Linked DNA regions of Homo sapiens: regions 2 and 3 are each linked to region 1. The links come from fine-mapping of genetic effects on gene expression. A gene starts in region 1. Each other region holds a variant in brackets. All regions are shown on one strand. Distances are between the middles of the regions.

What was found. PIP is the estimated chance that this variant, and not a neighbour inherited with it, causes the effect.
Region 2: its variant is fine-mapped to the expression of NOS2 in lung (TOPMed, PIP above 0.99).
Region 3: its variant is fine-mapped to the expression of NOS2 in tibial nerve (GTEx, PIP above 0.99). The same link has a PIP of 0.9 or more in T cells, blood mononuclear cells, breast, caudate, cerebellar hemisphere and cerebellum.

The regions. Positions count from the first base shown.
Region 1 is chr17:27,796,369-27,804,635 of GRCh38, forward strand. NOS2 (nitric oxide synthase 2) reads right to left here and starts at 4,161. Exons shown (of 27, transcript NM_000625.4): 1 at 3,971-4,161; 2 at 2,332-2,514. The coding sequence starts at 2,441. RefSeq lists promoters at 3,994-8,267, 4,074-5,191, 4,074-4,366, 4,125-8,267, an enhancer at 4,335-4,363 and cis regulatory regions at 4,676-4,698, 6,725-6,860, 7,519-7,658.
Region 2 is chr17:27,773,684-27,781,683 of GRCh38, forward strand. It overlaps NOS2 (nitric oxide synthase 2), which reads right to left. Exons shown (of 27, transcript NM_000625.4): 8 at 7,353-7,494; 9 at 7,084-7,223; 10 at 5,199-5,373; 11 at 5,007-5,108; 12 at 574-768. Among named protein-coding and RNA genes, the nearest start is that of NOS2, 23 kb to the right of the region's middle. The variant C/G (reference allele first, on the strand shown) is at 3,401.
Region 3 is chr17:27,874,676-27,882,942 of GRCh38, forward strand. It overlaps LYRM9 (LYR motif containing 9), which reads right to left. Exons shown (of 4, transcript NM_001076680.3): 2 at 7,894-8,037; 3 at 5,599-5,691; 4 at 3,683-4,815. The coding sequence starts at 8,019. The coding sequence ends at 4,798. Among named protein-coding and RNA genes, the nearest start is that of LYRM9, 15 kb to the right of the region's middle. RefSeq lists an enhancer at 7,290-7,980. The variant C/A (reference allele first, on the strand shown) is at 4,713.

The sequences.
Region 1 (8,267 bases):
GAACCTGGCAGGTGGAGGTTGCAGTGCAGTGAGCTGAAATGGAGCCACTACACTGAAGTCTGGGCAACAGAGTGAGACCCTGTCTAAAAATAATAATAATAAAAAATAAAAATAGAAAAGAAAAAAATAGGGGATGAGTTGGGTCTGGATGAGCTGAGGGAGGAATGTGCTATGCACAGGCACTGGGGAGCTGAGGAAGGCTGGGATGGGCAGGTGGGATGGGCTCTCCATTTGGGTAGGGTGCTCGCTCAGAACTCTGTGGAAGCTTTAATGTGGTGACAGGCAATGGGGAGCCACTGCAGGCTCTAGAATAGGGGCGTGACTTGCTAGAAGTCCAGTTGGCAAGAGAGAGCTCAGAGCCAGTGTGGGGAGCTGGAGTCAGGGAGGTCAGCTGGCAGCGGCTGCAATGATGAGATGAAGAGAAGGAAGGGGCGAAGCCACTGCCCCTCTACAGCCCTTAGAATCTGGACATCTAGAGGCCATCAACTCTGTGTTCTCACCTCTTGGTCTCTTAGCCACCTCAGTTGCCATAGCCCAGACTGCCTGGTTTCAAAGTCCTCTCCTCCAATTCACCTACCACACCACAGCTAGACTGTCCTGCTCAAGAACCTACAATGGCTCCCTACTGCCAGGGAGAGCGAGTCCAAATCTCCTACCCTGCATTCAAGCCCTTGTGCTCTGGCCTGGCTTTGCCTATCCCAGCCCCCAGCCCACTCCTGGCCAAGCACAGTCAGGCTCATTTCTGCCTCTGAGCCTCTGCTCACCTCTCCCCTCTTCCTGAATGTCCTTGCTACTCCTCTGCACCTGTCTACATTCTACCCATACTTCAAAGGCCACAGAGTCCACCTGACTTCTGTGAAGCCCCTAGAGGGAACTCTGTTCAATTTTGCTCCATCACCTCCTAACTGCCAACACCACCGCTAATGATAGCAATGCCAACAGTGCCATTTGCTGAGCACTTACTCCAGGCCAGGCCCTGTGCTAAGTTGCTCACATGGGAAAGCTCATTTACTCCTTCCTCCAACTCCAGGAAATCACCATTGTTACCCTCTTCTTATAGAGGAGGAAATTGAGGCTCAGAGGCTAGGGGACTTGCCAAAGGTTACAGGGCTACTGAGTGGCAAAGCCACTTGCTCATCCCCAAGCCCATCCTCTTAGCCACTGGCATTTTTTGCCGCCTCTGACAGATACACTCAGGGCCGTCATGCTGTACACATCCAGGGGGCGCCCTACCCTTTGTAGTCCATGGGAAAGGCTCCTCTGGGGCGGTGGGGTTGTGTGGCTATGTGGTGGTCTTGTGTAGATGGGGGCTTTGGTTTCAGTTGCACTATTGCGTTATTGCAGATTGCTTTGTCTTTCCACCTGAGCGAGCCTCAAGCCTGTCCCTTGACTTGTTCATTAACTGACTCATTCTCTTGGTTCTGCCCTGGGAGGAAGGATGGGCCCGGGGAGGAGGGACATGAAGAATCCAAATCTGGGCTCAAGTTCCAACTCTGTAAACTCTGTAATTACCGGTCATTCAGGCTGGGGGAAGTCATAATCCTATTAGAGCTTCTATTTCCTTATCTGTGAAATGAGTCAATCATATGAACTTCAAAGAGCCGCCACAGAGATCAGTTGAGATGCAAAGTCTGTCAAGTGGCCTGTGTAGCTCTGGCAAGGGCAGGTACTCAGTAGATGGTGATGAACCCTGATGTGGACTAAGTGTCTGTTCTGTGTGGGCACAGTGCTGAGTGCTGTAGATCTCATTTCATCCTCAGCACACTATGGTGAGGGCCCCCTTGGGTTCCTCATACCACAGGTGAGCACTAAGTTTCAGAGAGGTTAACTTACCCTGCGTCACACAGCTGGCTAGAGGCAGCACCCGGCAACTAGTGCGGCCAGCACAGGGCTTGGAACTAGTTTGTCTAACATCCTGATGCCCTTCACCAGGATGATATTCAAAGCATCTAGCAAGCGGTGAATTGGAATGGACGCAGGCCAGGATGCTGACCCTCCACCCCCACCCCTCCGCCATGGTGCCCACCACGAGGCTCTACTGCCTCCCATTCTCAGGCCAAGCTCCTTCCCATATTCTTCCCCAAAGATTCCAAGCTTCTTCAGGGCCAGCCCCGCACCATGTCCCTTCCTTCTTCACATACCGTCAGGCACAGCGAGGTGCCCAATAATCAGCGGCTGCATTGAATTCCAACAGGGACTTTCAAGAAGCAATGAGGAGATCAGACCTCAGGTGAGAGAGGAGGAGCAGAGAGAGGAATTCTGAGTCATCGGTGCCGACAGGGCATGGGTGCCCAAGGAGACAAGCAGGAGGTTCCCCCAGGGAAAACTCACCTGGAGGTGGCACAGGGGGCTTTCTCCACATTGTTGTTGATGTCTTTTTCCCCATTCATTGCATACTGGTGGAATTTGGTCTTGAACAGAAATTTCCAAGGACAGGCCATCTCTATGGCTTTACAAAGCAGGTCACTTATGTCACTTATCTGGATTTGAGCTCAGATGTTCTTCACTGTGGGGCTGAAGAAGGGAAGCAGAGGTGAGGGAAGGTTGAAGAAGAGTTTACAGAACAGGGCTTCTCAGTGGGGTTGGCTCACTGGGGAATCGATATGAACGCCAGCATGAGCCCCTTCATCAATGCTTTGCAACCTCTGTCTCTATTTCGGGGTTGGAATGGGGAGCCTTCGGACACAGACTTCAATTCTGTAAAGCCACCTAATAATCTTAAGGAAAAACAATGAACCCCCCCATCCCCATCGCCACTTAACAAGGACAAACTGTATGCACCATGAGCCTCCTTAGCGGGACCTGCTGGCCCACCAGACCCAGCCAGGCTTCATCACTGGCCACAGGCAGGGTGAGGAAGAGCCCGGAGGTCGTTGAAACAGGGGTGCCTTTGCCTGACCCTGAAAGACACTTCCCAGCAGCTCTCATTATCAACTGTAGTTTTAGGTCTATTACTGGGGAAAGCACTCAAGCTGTAGCTACCTTTCTTTTAAAGATTTTGCAGTTGTTGTTCTAACTCAGCATTATTACTTGCTCCTCTTTTATTATGTGGGGAGGAAATATTTGTGAAAAATGCACTCATCCCTCGAAATCTGAGATCATCTCCTTTGAAACAGACAAGAGGAAGATCAAAGAGGCAAAAACTCTGTCTTTAGAAGACAGTGTAGTGAATATAGTCCATGTAAGAATTTTAGGCCAAGTGCAGTGGCTCACGCCTGTAATCCCAGCATTTCGGGAGACCGAGGCAGGAGGATCGCTTGAGTCCAAGAGTTCGAGTTCAGCCTGGGCAACATAGGGAGACCTTGACTACAAAAAATTGAAAAATTAGCCAGGCAGGCATGGTGTCTTGTGCCTGTAGTCCCAGCTACTCGGGAGGCTGAGGCAGAAGGATTGCTTGAGGCTGGGCAGTCAAGGCTGTTTCCAAAAAAAAAAAAGAAAGAAAGGGAAGGGAAGGGAGGGGAAGGGAGGAAAGGACAGGAAGGAAAGGAAGGAAAGAGGGAAAGAAAGAAAAGAACTTATAGCCCCATAGACCTGGGTTCAAATCCTGGAATCCTAGCTCTACCAGTTATGTGTCCTGGATCAAGTTATTTAACTGAAACTCATTTATTCATCCATAAAATGGGTTTAATATATCCATCTTACCAGGATTTGTGGGGAGGTTACATGTTATAAGGACTGATAAGATAATCTCTGTTAAAAAAAATTCTTAGCAGATACAAACTCCCATTTTGAACTTTTCAGAAAGTTTTTCCTTGTCATGTAACAACCACAGCTAATATTTGCAGAAAAGAAATCTGACCAAGATGCCATGTTCAAATGACCAAACCTCATGTCGGCATTTTTTTACCTAGACTTTCCAACACCTTCTCTCTGTAGGCAGAAAATTCCCACAATTTTCTGAGCCTTCTCAAAGAGGAAGAAACAAAACCCTCTCAAAACAGCCGCTTCCCCAGAAATGAAGGCAACTCACCTTGCAGCTGGCTGCACTGCCTCCCCGGGGTAAGGACAGTCAAACCAGGAAGAGACCTGTGCCTTGAGAACTTCGGGACTGTCTAGAACTGCCCAGTCCCCTCATCAAAGGTGGCCGAGAGATTTTAAAGCAGGAATGAGGCTGAGTTCTCTGCGGCCGGAGCCTCAGTTTTCGACTCGCTACAAAGTTATGAACACACTGGCAGCCAAGAAGTATTTATACTCACCCCATGCCATCCAGAGAGTTGTTTTTGCATAAAGGTCTCTTTTTTTTTTTTTTTTTTTTGGTTTCCAAAGGGAGTGTCCCCAGCTTGTGTACAGTTAGCTAATTTATGACTGTGACTGCCAGGGCCTGTGGGTGACCTGATCTTGCTGTTACATCACTCTGTGTGGTGCCTCTTCACCCAACCCACCTCTTTCTGGTCCCAAGTCCAAGGTGGCAGTTCATCAGCAGGGTGGCTGCTAAGATAGAGGCACCACGGAGCCAGGTTTTATTTGGCCAAGCCACATGGCCTCACTTTCAGCATCTGGGAGATTTTTTCCTCAGCAGGGAGCTCTCTGGTTAATCCCTGTCCATCCTCTCACTTTTCCAGCTTGTGACAGGAGTCCAGGAAGCTGGGGGAATATTGACAGTATGGAACACACTGGAAAATGCCCAGGTTCCAGAAGGCCAGTGATATTAGATGATGCCATTATTCCAGACAGGCCTCTGAACTAGTCACTTGAGGTTTTTGGAAGGGAAAGGAAGGAAGGCTATTGGCACAGAGAGGCCTCTGAGATGTTGGTCTTACTAACACCTCATCCTTTAGCACTAGGTAAGCTTTGGTGGAATGGCAGGTAGGATTAAATTCCTTCCCTTATAATGGAAATGATCACTTCTTACATGAAAAAGTGGTAATTTCTTATAATTTCATTTCATTTATTTTATTTATTTATTTATTTTTGAGATGGAGTCTCATTCTGTCACCAAGACTGGAGCGGAGTGGCACGATCTCTGCTCATTGCAACTTCTGCCTCCCAGGCTCAAGCGATCCTCCCACCTCAGCCTCCTGAGTAGCTGGGACTACAGGCATGCACCACCACACCCAGCTAATATTTTTGTGTTTTTGGTAGAGACTGGGTTTCACCATGTTGTCCATGCTGGTCTCGAACTCTGAAGCTCAAGTGATCTGCCCACTTCAGCCTCTCAAAGTGCTAGGATTACAAGGGTTAGCCACCATGCCCGGCCTATAATTTCATTCCTTATAATGCCTGAAATACAGTATTCCCATACATATGCATTTTTCCATCATAAAAGTAAAATAACAACTACATTAGGGAGAAGTTGAGAAGCAAAGGGAAAAAAAGTCACCCTTGATCTCACCGTCCCAACACTTTGCTACCACTGTCCACTCATTTCCTTCTTGTCTTTCCCAAGTTAAATTCAGCATAATATATTAACTTTGTCAAAGATAAACTAAGAGCCACAAAAAAGACATGGATATCAGAGCTCAAGGATCTTTGTTGAGTGAATGTGTGGATGAATGAATGAAAAATAGGAGTAAACTGGAATGAGTTTTAACATATCAAAGCCATCTTCCCTTCAGGCTTCAGCTCAATGCTGCGGCTCAATGCTGCGGCTTAGAGCTCTGGCTTATGGAGCATCTGCCACGAAGAGCAATGCATTTTAGAAAGTGACAAGATGGCCGGGCGTGGTGGTTCATGCCGGTTCAGTTCAGGTAAACAGCACTCAGGGAAAGAGTCAGAATCCTGGCCTTAGGGAGTGCAAGGCCTAGAAAAATAAATGGATAATTATAGTACAGAGTGATATCTGTAGTGATGGAGGGATGGTATGGTGCTGATGTAGCTGGTTCTGCCTTGTTCAAGGAAAGTTTACAAGGGAGAGGACACCAGGGCAGGGTTTTGAGGGATGATTAGGAGTTTGCTACACTCTATTCCCTGTAGCTGCTTTCACATATTCTGGCTATACCTGCAGCAAACACATGTATTAACACATTTAATGCCCCCACCCAAGAGCCTCTGAGGGGGATACTACTATTTGCTATTCATGGAATCCTCAAGAATCCCATCTACTTGGCCTCAAAGCACTTCGTTGATTTTCCTTCAGAAAATGCAGTTATTCAGTTATGTGATCTGTCAAACATGTCACCTCAGGTGCCCCTCTAACACAGCGTCTGCTTGGTGTGGCATTCTTGACCTGTGGCAGGGTTTGAGTCCAAGCACCAGGCTTGAGGACACATTTGGAATTAGCCAGCTGGGAAGGAAATATAATTTCTCCTCAATCATCTTAAGTTATTTGTTGGGAAAGACACTGTAACAAAAGACAGATTAATAATAGAGAAAAAAAAGCAAGTTTGTTAATGTCTGTGATGCACACCACGCAGGAGAAGCCTCAGTGAAAGTAACTCAATGCTGCGGCTTAGAACTCTGGCTTATGGAGCATCTGCCATGAAGAGCAATGCATTTTAGAAAGTGACAAGATGGCTGGGCACGGTGGTTCATGCCTGGAATCCCAGCAATTTGGGAGGCTGAGGTGGGCAGATTGCTTGAGGCCAGGAGTTCGAGACCAGCCTGGGCAACATAGTGAGATCCAATCTCTACAGAAAAATTGAAAATAAATTAGCTGGGTATGGTGGCATGCCCAGCTACTGTAGTCCTAGCTACTCAGGAGGATCAGGTGGGAGGATCAATTGAGTCTGGGAGTTAGAGGCTGCAGAGAGCTATGGTCGCGCCACTGCACCCTAGCCTGTCTCAGAAAAAAAAGGAAAAAAAAGAGGGAAAGGAGGAAAGGAAAGGAAAGGAAAGGAAAGGAAAGGAAAGGAAAGGAAAGGAAAGGAAAGGAAAGGAAAAGAAAGGAAAGGAAAGAGAGAAAGAAAGAAAGAAGAGAAAGGTGACAAGACGAATGCAGTTGTAGGCTTCCAGGGGTGGCAAGCTGTGAGAAGGTAAACATGTGGAAGTGAGCTAAGGAGTAGGATAGCAAGGTTTGTTTGTATTTGTAGATGGCTCTGGTGCCATCTCTGAGCTGATAAAAGTTATCTTCTCATCTTGATGCTGGGAAAGCATCTTTCTCCAAGGAATGTTTATGGCTTGCTGCAGGCAGGACAGGGCAGTTCAGATAGCCCTCTCTCTAGCTGCTCTTTCTCAAATGCCTTCAGCTGGAGATAATCAGGATGCCATATCGGCATATCTGGGCGTGGCATGTTCTGGTTTCCTTTAGCCTGAAAGGTCCCAGGTTCGAGGCACAGCTTCACTGCTGACCTACCATGTGATCTTGGAAAAGCCACTTCTCTCTGGGCCTGACTTTTCTCGTGACAAAAGGTGATAAAAATAAAAGTAAATAAACGAGATACAAGAAAATGCTTTGAGCCATTGAGCAAAAAGTCAGCCAAGTAAGAATTTATTATCCTTGCTGGGAGTCAGAGAGTAACAATTTCCCTTTTGACAAAGAGCAAGTGGATGCCAGGACTTGCCTTCTGAAGTATCCTTCCTCAGACAGGTCCCCGTCCCACCACAAACACCTGCTTTTAAATTCCCGGTCCTCTCTCTCCCTTTGTAACATTAAATTCATGTATGTATTTTTAATTTTTAATTGGAATAAATTTCACATAACATAAAATTACCAATTAACTATTTTAAAGTGTAAAATGCAATGGTTTTTAGAATATTCACAATGTTGTATAACCATGACCACTATCCCAATCCTCTCTTAACCGGCAAATAGGAAGAGGAGGAGAGTAAAAATAGTGATAATGATTGTGATGATACACAGAGGTTAGGAGACTCACCAAGGTCACACAGCAAACAGCCTTCAAGCCGGGACAAACAGTGAGCTTCTGGTACCCTCCCCAGAGCGCCTGTCTGCAGGGTCCAGGGCTGGCCCCCTCCTGGAGGTTGGCAAGTCTCCTACGGCTTCCTGGGCCTGCACGGCTGCCTTCTTCTTGGCCCTGCCCACCCAGCAGGCCGCATTCCTGGCCTCTTCTGATGATGGATGCAGCAGGTGAATTCTGCTGGGGAGAAATCAAAGAGCACCTTGAAGGGCAGGCGGGGGACAGGTGGGCCCCCCGGAGGGTGGCGATAGAGGTTCCGAGGCTGCTGTGGAGAAATGCCCTCCTCCCTGCCTTCCCAGGCTGTCCTAGGCACCATGCTGACAGCAATCAGCACGGGAATGTCTTGGGCTCATTATCCTGGAATTGATTTTCCACTGGATTGATTTGATCTGTTTCTATGCCAGGCTGTGAAGATGGTTCAGATCCAGTTAGCCCTCGGAAGTTAGCAACTTTGAAGGCTTTTCTACAAAA
Region 2 (8,000 bases), 23 kb before region 1:
GATGAAGGAAGCTCTTAAAATCCAACCCAAGTCCTTTTTGGCACAAAATGAACTCTTCTCAATAGCTCATGGTTACTGAATGCATTCTGCATTGGGCACTGGGCTGAGCTGTTCCATACACCAGCTTTGTGATCCACACAACCCCCCGTCGTGGAGTGAAGCCCATCCCTTTTAGAGATGAGAAGATCAGGGCTCAGAAAGGTGAAAGGACCCACCCAAGACCCTATTGCTAGGAAGTGGCAGAATCAATAGCGTCTGACTCAGGGGCCAATCCCCTCAACACTCTGCTGAGTGACTGTTGCCGGGCCCTCCCGTGGAAGCAGGTGTAATGACAGACCCCCCATCTGAGCCACAGGCCACTAGCGGTGCAGTGGAAGCCACTTCCTTCAGTGCCACTCTCCGTGGAAATGCACAAAGGCTGCTCAGCATCCTTGAGTGGGGCCTGGAAAGCTCTAACAACATACTCCTGCTTCCCGTCGTGCCCTACATGTGTAACAATGAGGTGCACACACACACACACACATACAGCCACATCTGAGCCCCCAGGAAGGAGAGAAGAGGAAGGCCCCTAACCTGATAGTAGTAGAAAGGGGACAGGACGTAGTTCAGCATCTCCTGGTGAAACACGGGGGTGATGCTCCCAGACATGGGAGGGACCAGCCAAATCCAGTCTGCCGGGCAGCCCCCACGGGACCGGTATTCATTCTGCATGTACTTCATGAAGGATTCTGCAGCCGAGTGGTGGTCCATGATGGTCACATTCTGCTTCTGTATCAGAAGGCAAGATAGGGAGTGGAGATAAGGGTGGGGGAATCAGGAGAGGGGCCGGTTGGCCGCAGGGCTCCCAGAGAGTGCCTGGGAAGGCCTGGCAATCTGTAACACGGGAGAGCAACTCCTGGCCCTCTCCTTGCCTGCTGAAAATAAACACCCAAATGGAAGGCGCTTGTGGAGCCTCTGACAGAGCCCAAGAAAGCACATTAGTCAGGGTCAGCCCACAGGTCCCATGGGGGCCTCCCTTAAGTCTTTGAGGGCAATATCCAGCCTCTCATGCCCACAGGTCTCCCCAGACTCCCAGCAAATGGCTCTCTCTGGATCTGCATAACTTAAACCACAGCACCTTTTGGCAGGTAAAGGAAATACCATCCCAGCCATTTATGGTGGAGAGTTCTAAGAGTCACTTCCATGGGGTTGTAGCCTCCTCAGCCAAGAAGGAGCCAGACCCCTCCGTGGGGAGGTCTGAAGCATTGGGAGAACTGTAGTGTATGGGAGACGAATCACTCACAGTCTGAAATTACGGGCTGTGGGGTCTGACCCCATGGAATGGTCCAGCAAGGCAGCCACTGGCCTCTATGTCTGTGGCAACCCATTCAGTCAAGAGACATTTGTTTAACACAGTGGTTCAAACTCTGGCTTTTTATTTGCCATGTGACCTTGAGCAATTAGTTCTTTAAGTTTTCTCATCTGTGAAATGGGAGTGATATGAATTCCTATAATGGCCAGGTGCAGTGGCTCATGCCTGTAATCCTAGCACTTTGGGAGGCCGAGGTGGGAGGACTGCTTGAGCCCAGGAGTTTGAAATCAGCCTAGGAAACATGGTGAGACCCTGTCTCTATAAAAATTTAAAAATTAGTAGGCCAGCTGTCGGGGCTTACACCTATAATCCCAGCACTTTGGGAGGGCGAGACGGGGAGATCACCTGAGGTCGGGAGTTTGAGACCAGCCTGACCAACATGGTGAAACCCCGTCTCTACTAAAAAATATAATAATTAGCCAGGCATGGTGGAGGCACACACCTGTAATCCCAGCTACTCAGAAGGCTAAAGAAGGACAATCGCTTGAACCCGGGAGGCGGAGGTTGCAGTGAGCCGAGATCGCACCACTGCACTCCAGCCTGGGTGACAGAGCGAGACTCTGTCTTAAAAAAAACAAAAACAAAAAAATTTAAAAATTAGCCAGGTTTGGTGGCACATGCCAGTGTTCTCAGATATGTGGGAGGCTGATGTGGTAAGAGCATTGCTTGAGCCCAGGAGGTCAAGGCTGCAGTGAGCCATGATTGGGCCACTGCACTCCAGTCTGGGTGACAAAACAAGACCTTGTCTCCAAAAAAAAAGTTCTTACATCATGAGGTTGTTGAAAGGATGCAATAAGCTGGAATAAGCAAAGCATAGTAAGTGCTTAATAAATATTAGCTGCTCTTATAATCTCCATCTGCCAGGCACTGCATAAGGCATCGGCGTTATAGAAGGGAAAGACACAGCCCTTTCTCTGCATTAGAGTCTAGTCTAACTGGGTGGGGAAGCCAAGGAAAATCAGTCATTTTCACACGGCCTGATAGAAACTCTGATGGAGGCAGGCAAAGGTGCTGGGGAAGGGCAGAAGAGAGGATACAACGCCAGACAGAGGCCCAGGGTGAGTTGGCGAATTTCGGGAGCAGCTCCTGAGAGGAAGGGAGACTTGTGAGAGGGGTGCAAGTTAGTTGAGTGGGGCACTGCATGAGTCAAGGCAGGGAGGCATGAGAGGATCCAGCTGGTGTCAGGCCTGGGAAGGCCAGCCATGCCTTGTAAATTCAATAGACATACATAAGTTATATATGTGTATATAAAAGTCCGGCCACCACTCTTGTGGACGTGGGCTCTCATTCACTTATTCTTCCAAGACACAGCAACTCCTGGGAGCCAGATCAGTTCTAAGCTCAGTGGTAGCTACAGGATGGGTGCAGTGGCTCACACCTGTAATCCCAGCACTTTGGGAGGCAGAGACAGGTGGATCACTTGAGGCCAGGAGTTTGAGACCAGCCTGGCCAACATGGTGAAACCCTATCTCTACTAAAATTACAAAAATTAGCCGGGTATGGTGGTGCAATCCTGTAATCCCAGCTACTTGGGAGGCTGAGGCAGGAGAATTGCTTGAACCCAGGAGGCGGAGGTTGCAGTGAGCCGAGATCACACCATGCACTCCAGCCTAGGCAATGGAGGGAGAGTTCATCTCCAAAGGAAAAAAAAAAAAAAAAAAAAAACTCAGTGGTAGCCACGATCATGATGACAACATAATAAACAGTAAGAAAATCATTGCTTACTGAGTGTTGTCTATGGGCCAGGCAGTGCAGCTAAACATTTTGCATGCATTTTTACTTAACTCTTATAATCCTCAGATGAGGGAGGCACTATTATCCCCATTTTACAGAGGAGGAAACAAGGGCCCATCTTTTGAAGTTTACCCTGAAGGAGGGTGGTGAGGAAGTCCTGGAGACGCTCAGGCAGTGGAAGGACACAGTCAGCCACGGTGAGGAGACAGCAGAGGCTCACAGATTTTCTGGGACGTATCCACATCCTGCCAGCATCAGGGCTGGTGCTGGGAGTCCCCAGGAGTCAGGATGTGTGGTGCAAAGCCAGCCCTTCCC[C/G]AAACACCGGGGGGCTCTTCCTGTTCCATCTTCCCCTCCCCCGTCAAGCACAGGCCTGATCTGCCTATGGGGTGACCCAGTCATGGGGAACAGTGTGTGCTCATCTGTACTCTGTTCACCACTCACATCCTTGGCCCAGCCTAGTGCCCAGCACCAGGCAAATGCTGAGTAAAACACTGCTGAATGAATGAATGACTGACCAGTGGTGGGGTCTCCAGGGCATCTGTCAGCTTTGTGGCAATGGCTGTGGCTTCTAAAGTAGTATCTTCCTACATCTCAGGCCTCCTTCCCACAGGGAAGGGAAGTGTTTCTATGAGTAAGAGCAGCGGATGGGCCTGAGGGCTTAGCCCTACACAGGAGCCCAGCGGCTGTGTGTGGGCTTAAGAGGAGGTGGAGGTTGTTATCCTCGCACAGCAAGCAAGAGCAGCCACAGCTCACAGGTCCCCTCCCAGCATCACTCATTCATGCACACGTCAGACAAGGACTGAAGACCCAGTTTGTGCCAGGCCAGATCGCGGATGTGGCCCTCATCATTCATTCTTCAAAGACAAATTATTTTAGCATCTACCATGTGCCAGACACTCTTCTAGGCCAGAGGTGCAGCAGCAAACAGACAGACAAGGTCCCTGCCCCATGGAGCTTACATTCTAGTGGGGGAAACCAAACAATAAAGAAAGCTGGCCCGGCACCGTGGCTTATGCCTATAATCCCAGCGCTTTGGGAGGCTGAGGCAAGCGGATCACTTGAGGCCAGGAGTTCGGAACCAACCTGGGCAACATGGAAAAACACCATCTCTACTAAAAATATAAAAATTAGGCAAGCGTGGTATGCACCTGTAGTCCCAGCTACTCGGCAGGCTAAGGTGGGAGGATCACTTGAGCCCAGGAGGTCAAGGCTGCAGTGATCATGCCACTGCATTCCAGCCTGGGTGACCGAGTGAGATGATGTCTCAAAAAAAAAAAAAGGAAAAGAAAGAAGAAAGTCGATGTCCTATATAATGCCAGGAACTGTATGAGGAAGTATTTTGAAGAAAAATAAAATGGTTAAAGGACTAACACAGAGAGACAGGTTGGCAGTGGGGTGAGGGCGTCATTTTACATGGCACGGTCAGGGAGGCCTTCTTTTTTTTTTGAGCGGAGTCTTGCTCTGTCGCCCAGCCAGGCTGAAGCAGTTGGGGGATGAGGAAGCACAATGAGATCTCTCCATAGTTTTGCTGTAGAAAGGAGCAGAAGGGTGAGGCAGTGGCTGGAGGGAGCCTGAGGTTTGGCAGGAGTTATGTGGTTAGCTATTCATTTCTTTCTTTGAAATGGGGCTAAGAGAGCCTGTCTGTACACTGCTGGGAATGACTCAGCAGAGAGAGAGACATTGATGATACAGAGAGAGAAGAGGAAAATTTTTGGGAGTAAAGTCCTTGAGCGATTGAGAGAGGACAGAATTCAGTGCTCAAGTACAGGGATTGAACAGTCTTGGGAGGTGAGGAGCTGCCTGTTGCTGGACCTCTAGAGTGAGCAAGGGGGCTTACTTATAAATTAAGCATCACATAAGTCACTGGATCAGTTAAGCTTCTCACCAAAAAGTCTTCAGACTCACAAAACTCCAGACATACCTGGAAACTATGGAGCACAGCAATGTTGATCTCAACGACAGCCTGGTCTTTCCAGAGCGAGGCCAGCTTGTGCGTTTCCAGGCCCATTCTCCTGCCCACTTCCTACAGAGGCAGAGTGATAGCGGCGAGTCGGTCCCTGAAGCCACCCCCAGGCCCACACCTTCATCTGGCCAGCTGGGCTGGCTGGGTTACCTCCAGGATGTTGTAGCGCTGGACGTCACAGAAGTCCCGGACTCCGATCTCTGTGCCCATGTACCAGCCATTGAAGGGGCACCCTGGGAACTCCAGGCCGCCCACCTCAAGCAGCATGTTGGCCACTGCAGGCAGGGCGTACCACTTTAGCTCCAGTTCCCGAAACCACTCGTATCTGGCAAAAAGGTAGACACAATTTAACTGGGGCCTTCCTTATTTTTATTTTATTATTATTTTTTTTTTAGTGACTTGGTCTTGCTCTGTTGCTCATGCTGGAGTGCAGTGCAGTGGCACAATCATAACTCACTGCAGCCTTTAACTCCTGGGCCCAAGCGATCCTCCTGCCTCAGCCTCCCAAGTAGCTAGGACTGCAGGCATGTGCCATCTTGCTCAGCTAATTTTTTTCCTTATTATTATTATTATTATTATTATTATTATTATTATTATTTTATAGAGTCTCACTATGTTGCCCAGGCTGGTCTCGAACTACTGGCCTCAAGTAATCCTCCTGCCTCAGCCTCCCAAAGTGCTGGAATTACAGGTGTGAACTACCTTGTCTGGCGCTGGGGGCTTCACTTTTGCACCTTTGGCCTCCCACTGACCCCCCACCTGCCCACCAAGAAAAAAGCTTCAGAAAGAGTCAAACAAGAAAACTCCTTTCCAAGAGTTGATTCTGAGTTAATCCCAGCCAGAGAGACGTATTGGACACATAGGATGCCATTTATTAAATTATGCATTCATGCACTCATTCATTCATGCAAACCTATATTAAGCTTCAAGTATGTGCCAGGCTCTGTGCTAAATGCTGAGAATGCAACACAACAGAGCAATTAAGGACTCCAGTGTCAGAAGCTGGGGTTCAAGTTCTGCCTCTGACTAGCAGTGTGAACTTGGGATGTTTTTTAGCCTCTCTGAGCCTCAACATCCCCATTATCAGAATAGAAACATAGCATCAAATTCATGGAATTATTATAAAGCTAGTAATATCATTCACTTGTATATTCAGTTATTCCACAAATATTTATAACTGAGCACCTACTATGTGCCAGGCACTCTGCTAGCTGTTGGGTATACATTGTGAACAGAAAAGAAAAGATCTCCACCCTCAAGGAACTTGTAGTCTAATGTCTAGACTCTAGATTATAAATGGGTAAACAAATATATAAGAAATAAAAACAAGATGATGTGTTAGACTGAGGGTAAGGGGGCCTCCTCTAGCTTGAGTGGTCAGAGAGCCTTCTCAGAGGAGGTGACATTATAGGAAATACCTTTTGACAAGAAGAAATGAGCCTAGAAAAATTCTGAGGAAAAGGCATGTCATGCAAAGGGAACAGGGAGTACAAAGGCTGTGAGTCAGGACTGAATTTGGTTCATTCAACGGCCAGGAAGAAGAGCCCAGCCCAATGTCTGCTACAGAGTAAATCTCAATACGCAGAGGTATTTTTGCAATTATGAGAACTGCCTAGAGCAGGGGCTGGGCCAGTAGGACTCTTGAAGTCACTGCAGCCCTATATGATCCCGACAGGAGAGGGACAGCTAAGAGCATTGGCAGGAGGGCAGAAGAGGCCTGGGCTGCTCCTTTCTAGAATCTCAATGCATTCCTCTCCTGCAGTCACTGCTTCTCAAGCTCCTGGGGCCCCATCCGCCTAAGCCTCTGCTTCCCCTCAGCATCAACACATCCACCTGTCTGAGGCCCGAGGTGCCAGTGCAGAATGGCTGCAGAATGCAACAGTGACAAAAGAGTCCTTGAAGGCCAGCCCCCTGAGTGTCACCTGCTGCTGGCTGGGCTTTAGGGAAGGTATGGGGAAGGCTGGAGCCGCACTTAGGAAAGGAGAAGGGCTGTGTGTTGACTCGCCCTTGCCCCCAGCACCCTCAGCCTACTTACTTGGGATGTTCCATGGCCACCTCAAGCACAAGGTCAGGTGGGATTTCGAAGAGCTCAGGGTCACGGCCATTGGCCTGCAGGACCAGGGGGACCACATCGAAGCGGCCGTACTTGGGCTTCCAGCCCAGGTCGATGCACAGCTGGGGAACAAGACGGGCCCTGTGAGTCTGTAAGCCCGGGCTGCGTGTCTCCTCTGGGCTCCACTCTGTCACTCGCTCACCACGGGGCTCCCCGCCCCAATGGCCGGTGGCTGAGGCTGGGCCGGGTACCTGAGTGAATTCCACGTTGGCAGGGTCCCCTCTGATGCTGCCATCTGGCATCTGGTAGCCAGCATAGCGGATGAGCTGAGCATTCCACACCCGGAAGTCGTGCTTGCCATCACTCCGCTGGGGGAACACGGTGATGGCCGACCTTCCCAGGACAGGAACAGTACTGTTTACCACCTAGCCCTGGTGGGGGCCCAGCCATCCTGCACTGGCCCTACCTCCCTCTCCACCCTACCTGCTCTGCAGCCCCTGATCCCAAGCTGACTGAGCCAGCCTCCTGACATGCCTTCTCCTGCTGCCCTCCCTCAAGACCCAGGGTCCACCCCCTCAAGGGGGCCTTCCCATCCATCAGGCAGGGTTAGCTGATCTGCCAGTCTTTCCCTCACTGCCTATGTCTCCGTCCTTGCAGTTGAGTTAGCTGGTTGCCTGTCTAGTGCAGGTCATAGGCTCACACCAGCTGGAGCAGCATCTTAGGGTCCTAGTCACTCTTCCTCCTACCCCCCCATACCCCATCTTCCCCCTGCTCTCCCAGCCTTGTCCTGTGTTGAGTTGCATTAGGTAGGCACTGAGTGTTTGCTGAACAAAAAGATGAATGAATGACCAAATGAGCTGTTCAGTCCTATTAGCTTTGACCTCGTTGGTTGGGAGAGG
Region 3 (8,267 bases), 78 kb after region 1:
GTGGTGAACTAAACCAAGTCCTTCCTGTGGAGCTCACTGTCTATGGACTGATTCTTCCTTCGTGTCCTCATCATCTGCTCAGTCCAGGGATGCAGTAGACGCTAGTAAGTGTTCCTCCTCCTTTGCTCACCAGATTTTTTTTTTGAGACGGAGTCTCGCTTTGTCATCCAGGCTGGAGTGCAGTGGCGCAATCTCGGCTCACTGCAAGCTCCGCCTCCCGGGTTCACGCCATTCTCCTGCCTCAGCCTCCCAAGTAGCTGGGACTCAGGCACCCACCACCATGCCCGGCTAAATTTTTCTGTATTTTTAGTAGAGACGGGGTTTCACTGTGTTAGCCAGTATGGTCTCGATCTCCTGACCTTGTGATCCGCCCACCTTGGCCTCCCAAAGTGCTGGGTGGGATTACAGGCCACCGCGCCAGGCCTGCTCACCAGATCTTTAAAGGAAATATTTGAAGCTGTTCCACTGAAAAACATTTTTTCATTTCTTCGGAGAGGCTCAAAAGCAATCTTGCAGCCTCTGAGCAGTTCATTAGCAGATTCCTTTAACCAGCTCCAACCCTGTACCCTGCTTCTGATTCGTTGTTGAAACCATGTGCCTTTCTGGGGTGACCTTGTGCCTGCCTGCTCCACACGGTGCTCTTCACCCTGTAAGGCACTGTTCTAAAGCCTCTCAGCATCTCGAACTTCAGTCACCCACCCCAAGTTAACAAGTTTACTCCCTCAGGGCAAATCGGCCACAGCTATGGTTCCCCATCATCGCACAAAGGGTGCCTGTTTTGTTTGATTTGGATGCTCAAGTTAATCCCCACCCACTAGGGAGGCAAAATGGACAGGTTCATTTCAAGAGGATGGGAGGAAGGTTGGATTTCAGCACTTGGTAACTTTTACTTTGGGGGAAATCCTCTCTCTGCATCAAGACAAACTTCCTGGAGGAAGTGCCTGCCAACTGTGCAGTGAGGGCAAGTGTTCCCTCCTCCAAAGCAGCTCCCAACCATCGGCGGTAAGACTTAGCCAAGAAATACTCACCATCTCCCAGCCTTTCTCATTACTAGAAAGCAGTGAGAAACAAACAAATGAAAGACAGACATCACAGTTTGCCTGCGATCATCATTCTTTCCATTCAGCCAGCACTTAAGAGCTCACAGCCTGGGCAGCAGACACACAACTGGCCTGGAGGGTTCTGCAACGACTAATACCTGGTTCCTGGCTTCAACGGCTTCACTCTTTGGTGGAGGAGACAACTACATAAAGAGTTGATTACAAAATCGCCCCTTTGGAGAAGGTCCAAACTCCTTAGCAAGGCCTGCAGGGCTCTGCACGATTTGGTTCCCGTGGTGTATTCAAGCCTCATCCCCTCCACCTCCACCCCTATTTTCTCCACCCACCATGATGTCTCAACCACACCAAGCAGCATGCGAGTCCCTGAACAAGTGGTGCTCCTTGGCCTGAAATGCCCCTCCCCCAAGCTAGCAAAGATGCCTCTGTCCCCTTCTCTGACAGAGGTTTCCTCTCTGCAGCAGATCCCAACTGGAAAAAGGGAGATGCCTGAACCTTAATTCAAGTTTTGAAATTTTATTTTCCTGAGACTGGACATTTCACTTCATGCATTGAAACTGTTTTGTGACTTCAAAGTAGCCATAGCTTTGGGTTTTTAAAATTTAAGTCCAGCCAGAAATTTTTGAGGCTTTGTCTCAGTTTTCATCCAGGGACAGGGAGAACAGGAACCTCCAGAAAAAAAAAATACAAAGGAATTGTGAGAGAAAAAGATAAATCTATGTTATGATCACATCCTACGAGCCACAGTTGCTCAACCTCCAGGCAACCCACGTCTGTCTTTCCCTTAGACTGTGAGTCCCTTCCTGCGTGGAGGGAAGACTGTGCAGTAAATGGTCAATGAAGATGGGGTGGGCACAGGGGCGAGAAATGGAACTGCGTAGGGCGGGACAGGCTCTGCCCCAGGAAGCATGTGCTGGTGTAGGACTCAAGGCTAGCACTGCCCCAGGAGTCAGCCTCAGATATGCAGGGTCTTGCAAAGAAGGCCCTTGAGGGTTTTAACATCTGTCTTTTGCTACACAGATAAACCCAGAAACTTTATAATGCAAATGCACCCCAGAAAGGCAATGTGAGTCCAAAGGAGTATCTAAGTGTGGGCAACACGTGTCAAATCCTTTCCTGCTGACATTTTGCTTGTACAGTGGACACCAGGGAGAGCCGCAAGGACCCACCTAAAGAGAAGCATCAGCTGGGCGCGGTGGCTCACACCTGTAATCCCAGCCCTTTGGGAGGCCAAGGCGGGCAGATCACTTGAGGTCAGGAGTTCCAGTCCAGCCTGGCCAACATGGTGAAACCCCGACTCTACTAAAAATACAAAAATCAGCTGGGTGTGGTGGCATGTGTCTGTAATCCCAGCTTCTCAGGAGGCTGAGGCAGGAGAATCACTTGAACCCGGCAGGCGGAGGTTGCGGTGAGCTGAGATTGTGCCACTGCACTCCAGCCTGGGCAACAGAGTAAAACTCCATCTCAAAAAAAAAAAAAAAAAAAAAGGAAAAGAAAAAGGAGAGAAGTGTCATCACCAGGTAAACCAAAGACAAGAGATGGAGGCCACATGGCTGACAGCCCATCTGTGTGCACTGCCGTAATCTCACCAGCCCATGGGATGTGCAACCTGTAGCAGTGAGAAAAGTGAGCCTGACAGGTTAACAAATCTGCCCCAAATCACACCACCACTAAGTGACAGACTGGGATTCAAATTCAGGTGTCTGTATCTCCAGAGCCCCCTCCAGCAGGCCACACTGGCTGACTCTGGGTGAGACCTTCATCTCCTTCTTCCATTTGCTTGGAGGCTACTCTGTAAACCTTCAACTCTATGCATTTGAGAATTGAGAGGAGAAATGAAGGACCCATACGCATGGTCCACGCAGGGCTTGGAGTAGTGGAAGTCAGAGGGCAGGGTGGAAGGCAAGGCTGCTGCTGAGGATGGGAGGCTCTCCCAGGCTTCAACAGTGCCCCTGTGTGCACAGTGCTGTGTGCATCCTGCCTCCCCTACCGTGGGCCCCTGCATGACCGGGCTCACTACCCTCTGTGGCAGCACAGGGGCTGGGGGAGAGCAGCCAACACACTGTTCACCCACCCCACCCCTTGCTGGCTCCCTCACAGGCCAGCCACATGCTGGAGCTAGGCAACCACTGTCTGACATGTGGCAAGTCAGCACAGCTGGACCAAGCACCTACCTAGGAACTAAAGGTCATAGAACCACTCCAGGAGCTGGTCAAGAGCAAACGACACTAACTCTATCCTGAACCCTTGTCAGCCTTCAATCATTTCTCTCCTGTTGGGGAAACATCTGGGATACAGCTGCCCCCACTCCTATGATCACAATACAGCCCTGCCACCTGAGGAGGGGCCCCCAGCTCAACGGCAGGGGTGCAGACAGGGGCCTGGCTCAGCTTTGGCCCTAGCCTGAAACCCCTCAGCTTGCCCATACCCTGGTGGGGCAGATCTGACCTCATCAACTGTTGTCTAGCAGTGGGGCCAATCCCAGTCACCTTCTCTGAAGAATGACCCCTCCTGGGCAGCTTTGTCTGACTTGACTCTAGGTTCTCAACAGTAGATGACACTCAGGAAGGAGACAACGTATGCTTAGGGAACGTATGGTTTATCAGTTGAGAAGACACACGAGCTTCCACAAATTGATATATTTACTTCATTGCCAGCGGAGTACACTCGCATACATAGATATCTCTGAGTCACTTTAAGTCACATAACTGCAAGGATACAAACAAACACTAGTTCATCCCTGTGGCTGAGTGCCCTTGGGGAATACTCAGATCCCAGTGGGGCTTCTCTCTGCATCTTCTGGCCACTCTGGCCGTTCTCCCTGAGCCCACCCACCTTCTCCCCCTCCCTTCCATTCTTCCACGATGGTAGCAAAGCAGGGAAGTGCCAGTGGAAAGAGACTGCAGGTGCACAGAGGCTTGGACAGGCCAGAGTCCATGGCAGCTGCTTTGGCGTCTCTCCTTGGTTCATGTGGTGGGCACTTCACCACTTCAAGGACACTGTCAACTCCCTGAAGGCAAGGCCCAGGGCTTTGACTTCCCTAGGCATGGAGAGACAGTAGTCAGGAAAAGCAGCTCCTTGGCAGACTGCTGGGTGTGTGACAACTGTGAGGGCTCAGGGGCTACAAGCAGGGACAGGGCAAGCTCGCAAACAAAAAACTGAGACCCGATGCGGTGCATGCGGGGAGCAGAGCTGTGCAGGGCGCTGCAGGAGCAGAGGAGGGGGCGGGGCAGGACGGCTTCCTTGAAGGGAGCCCTTCAGGCACTGTCATGTGCCACATCCTGTGTGAGGCACTTCACCTTCATCTTATTGCATCTGGGATTCAAATCCAGATCTGTCTGGTTCTAAAACCCACGTGCTTTCTTCTGTACAGGTTGCTACCTGAGGGGACATCTGCTCTGGGACTCAGAGAATGATAAAGAGATCTCCAGAATAAATGAATCACTTTCAGAGAAAAGTAAAAGAACAAAAACACAAAAATAAAAAACACACAAAAGAAGCAAAAAAATACTACATTCTCCCCAAATTTCACATCGTAAGTGGCTGGAAGTGCAAACATAAAGGATGCTAGCAACATGGCCGCGGCAAGAGGAGCCTCTGGAGCAAGGTCAGCTTCTCCCCTGATTTCTGGCTTTCAGCCAACAAGGCCAATGG[C/A]TCTTCCAAACCAGCTGCTGCTGCTGAGCTCCAGAAGAGGGGCCTCTCAACTTCCAGAGGCCAGGAAGGCTCACCCTCGGAGCTCTCAGTTTTGTTTTTTATACTGCAAGACAGAGAGATTCGAAGTGGAGGAGGGAAGCCAACAGGGGCAGGAGGACTCTGGAGAAATCTCAGGCCTCCATCATCTGGACCTCACCTGCCTCCTGCAGGGGCTTCTTGGAGGTGGTGAAACCCAAGCAGGAGGCACTGGGCAGCCAAATCTCTAGTTCATGCCTGGACTCCCTTTCTTCTTTAGTGAAAAAGGAAGCTGACAGGGCTGGGGAGGGAGGATAGTGATAACTCACTCTGGAGAGTGAGTTAGAAGGACAGGGAGGTATGGTCACACTCCAACTCTCTAGGTCCTTCTAATACCAGCATCTAAGGGCCAAGACGCCAGTCTACATTCCTGACTCACTCCCTTCCTCCACCAAAACATACTGAATGTTTCCTCCATAATTCTGCCCCAGTGTGAATACCCCCCAGAGACAGGGAGTCCCCCGCCAGGACAGCTTCCCTCTCTGCGGCATCACAGTGCCACCGCCGGCTCTGGCACTATAGCTTTCCCTCCTTCTTCCTGCTGCCCCCTCTCAGCTCGATCAGCACTGTTGGGCAGAAATTTGCCTTTAAGGATGAAGAGTGAGAGCCCCTCCCCACTTGCAGAATATAAATGCAACCAGAAGGGATTTGTCTTCACCTTTCAGCTTCTGGAGGAGGGAAGCAGCTGGCTGGTGGCCTCCTCCACAGGGACCATTCTCAACTGTGGGGCAGGAGTGGCCTCTAGTGGTCATGGGGATCACAGCCATCATCACCCCAGCTCGCAGGCAGAGCCCAGGGGCCAAGCACCTACTTTGTTCATGATCCAGTCAGCATCTTCAATGGCTCTTTTAATAATCTGCTGGATTCTCTCAGGGTTGTCTTCATCTGAATGAACCCGAAAACTCTGCAAGTTTAAGCATAAAGAAAGATGACTAGGCAAAATTCCCAGGACAGGCAGCTTCAGAGCACCAATCACAGGCCAGGGACACTGCTGGGCACTTTATACCCAGCAGCTCTCTTCATCCTCCATAGACTGTTATGATTATCCCACACAGAGATGAGGAAACAGAGGCTCACTTGCTGCTGAACAATAGCATTTGAATCCTAGTCTATGTGACTGCAAAGCATGTACTCCTGCCACCAAGGTAGGTGCAAAAAGACTGGCCCCCAAGTTACTGCCAAATCAAGCTAGGCCCAAAGGCTATCAGGCAGTAGAGTCCAAGGGGAAACTTCCATCTCTCTTCCTCAGAAGACGCTGCTTTCCCCAGGGTGAGATCTCTGCATAGGCTTTACAGCAGGGAGGAAGAAGTAGGACTTCTCTCGGCCCAGTGCTAGGAGAGCTACACAGGGAAGGGAGGGGAGGTAGTAGATAGAGTGGCCTCAGGAAATCCACCCAGGCCCAGTGCAGAGCATGGGATACTGTTTGCTTTTGACCAGATATTCATCCTTGAGAAGCAACCTAAGATTCAGGTTTTGCTTTTCAAAAAGAACTGGCACCAGGCATGGTGGCTCATGCCTGTAATCACAGCACTTTGGGAGGCCGAGGCGGGCAGATCACCTCAGGTCGGGAGCTGGAGACCAGCCTGACCAACATGATAAACCCCATCTCTACTAAAAATACAAAGTTAGTCGGGCGTGGTGGCACATGCCTGTAATCCCAGCTACTCGGGAGGCTAAGGGAGGAGAATCGCTTGAACCCAGGAGGCAGAGGTTGTGGTGAGCTGAGATTAAGCCATTGCACTCCAGCCTGGGCAACAAGAGTGAAACTCCATCTCAAAAAAAAAAAAAAAAAAAAAAAAAAAAGAACTGGCACCTCCCTCCCCTGTCACTCCCAGCCCCACACATCCTCCTGCTCATCTTTAGGAGCGCCCCCCGCTCAGCATCCACCTCTGGCATGCCCTCCTTGACTCCCCCAGACAGCTAACTGCTCGTTCTCCATGTTTCCACAGCCCTCTGTGGCTACCGCCACCTCTGATTTTTTTTTTTTTTTACTTTCCATATTATATGTGTATGAATTTTAGCTAACTTTCTATTTGGAAATGATTTCTCACTTACAGAAAGTTGTGATAATAATACAAAGAATTTCCTACCAGAATCACTGACTGTTAACATTTTGCTACACTCGCTTTATCATTCTCTTTATATAAGTATGTATAAATTTTTTCAGAAGCATTTAAGAGTAAGTTGCAGACACGCTATCCTTACCCCTAAACATTCCCATGTGTAGTTCCTAATGACAAGGGCATTCTCTGACATAACCACAGTAATCAAATTCAGAAGACTCAACATTGATACAACTCTATAATCCATAGCCCATATTCCAATTTCATGCACTGCCCCAGTAATATTCATTTTTTTTTTTTGAGGCAGGGTCTCACTCTGTCACCCAGGTGAGAATGCAGTGGCACAATCACAGCTCATTGCAGCCTCGACCTCCGGGCTCAAGCAATCCTCCCACCTCATTGTTTGATTTTTCTGTAGAGACAAGGTCTTTCTATGTTGCCCAGGTTGGTCTTGAACTCCTGAGCTCAATCTGCCTGCCTTAGCTTCCCAAAATGCTGGGATTACAGACATGAGCCACCATGCCTGGTTCCCAATAATATTCTTTACAGCATTTTTTTTCTGGTCTAGGATCATACATTACATTTAGTCACCATATCTCTTGAGTTCTCTAATCCAGAACATCAAAAATGTCAGCGTTGTGTTTCACGACACTGACATTTTTGATGAGTACAGGCCTATTAGTTATGTGGTAGATGGCCTCTCGATTTGGTTTTACCTGATGTTTTCTCAGGATTAAATTCAAGTTGTGCACTGTTGGCAGGGATGCCTGCCTAAATGATGTCGTGTCCCACAGTCTATTTTAATTACCCACTTAGCTGCCTCATGCATGCCCTAGCACAGCTGGTGTGCTGGGTGAGGCACCCTCTGTTTCCTGGACAGAGAGGAGCTGGGCTGCCCAGCACTGGTTTCCTGTGGCTCTTCCCACACTGCCACCTCACCACCATCTCAGAGACTAGCTCTGTGCCCTGGCCTTGGCCTCTGACCTGCGCCCCTAAGCCTGCCATTAGAGGCAGCCCCCAGACCTGGTAGAGCCAGCTCGCACCTGCCTGACAGCATGCTTGTAATGCTGCTGGATGCCCTTGGTCGGCAGCTGCTGGCAACAGCGCAGCAAGTATCGGTAGAGCTGCAGTGGCCTCCGAACCAGTTCTGCTCCTGGCAGCGGGGCCATCCGTGAGACCCTCTGTCCCTGGAAAACAAGCAGGATCACTTCCAGGGCATCAAGCCAAGTTCAGTACTCAGCCCTGACCCCCAGTTCCCAGTACTCTGGGAAGCAAGCTTGGTGCAGTGCAGAGGCCCCTCCTGTCCCATCCCATGGAGCCTGCACCTTGGGGTGGGGTGGGCATTCAGTTCAACAGAAGCTCTAGCCCAGAGCAGGCCCACAAGACCAAAGGTGAGTGTGGAGGGAGACTTACAGCC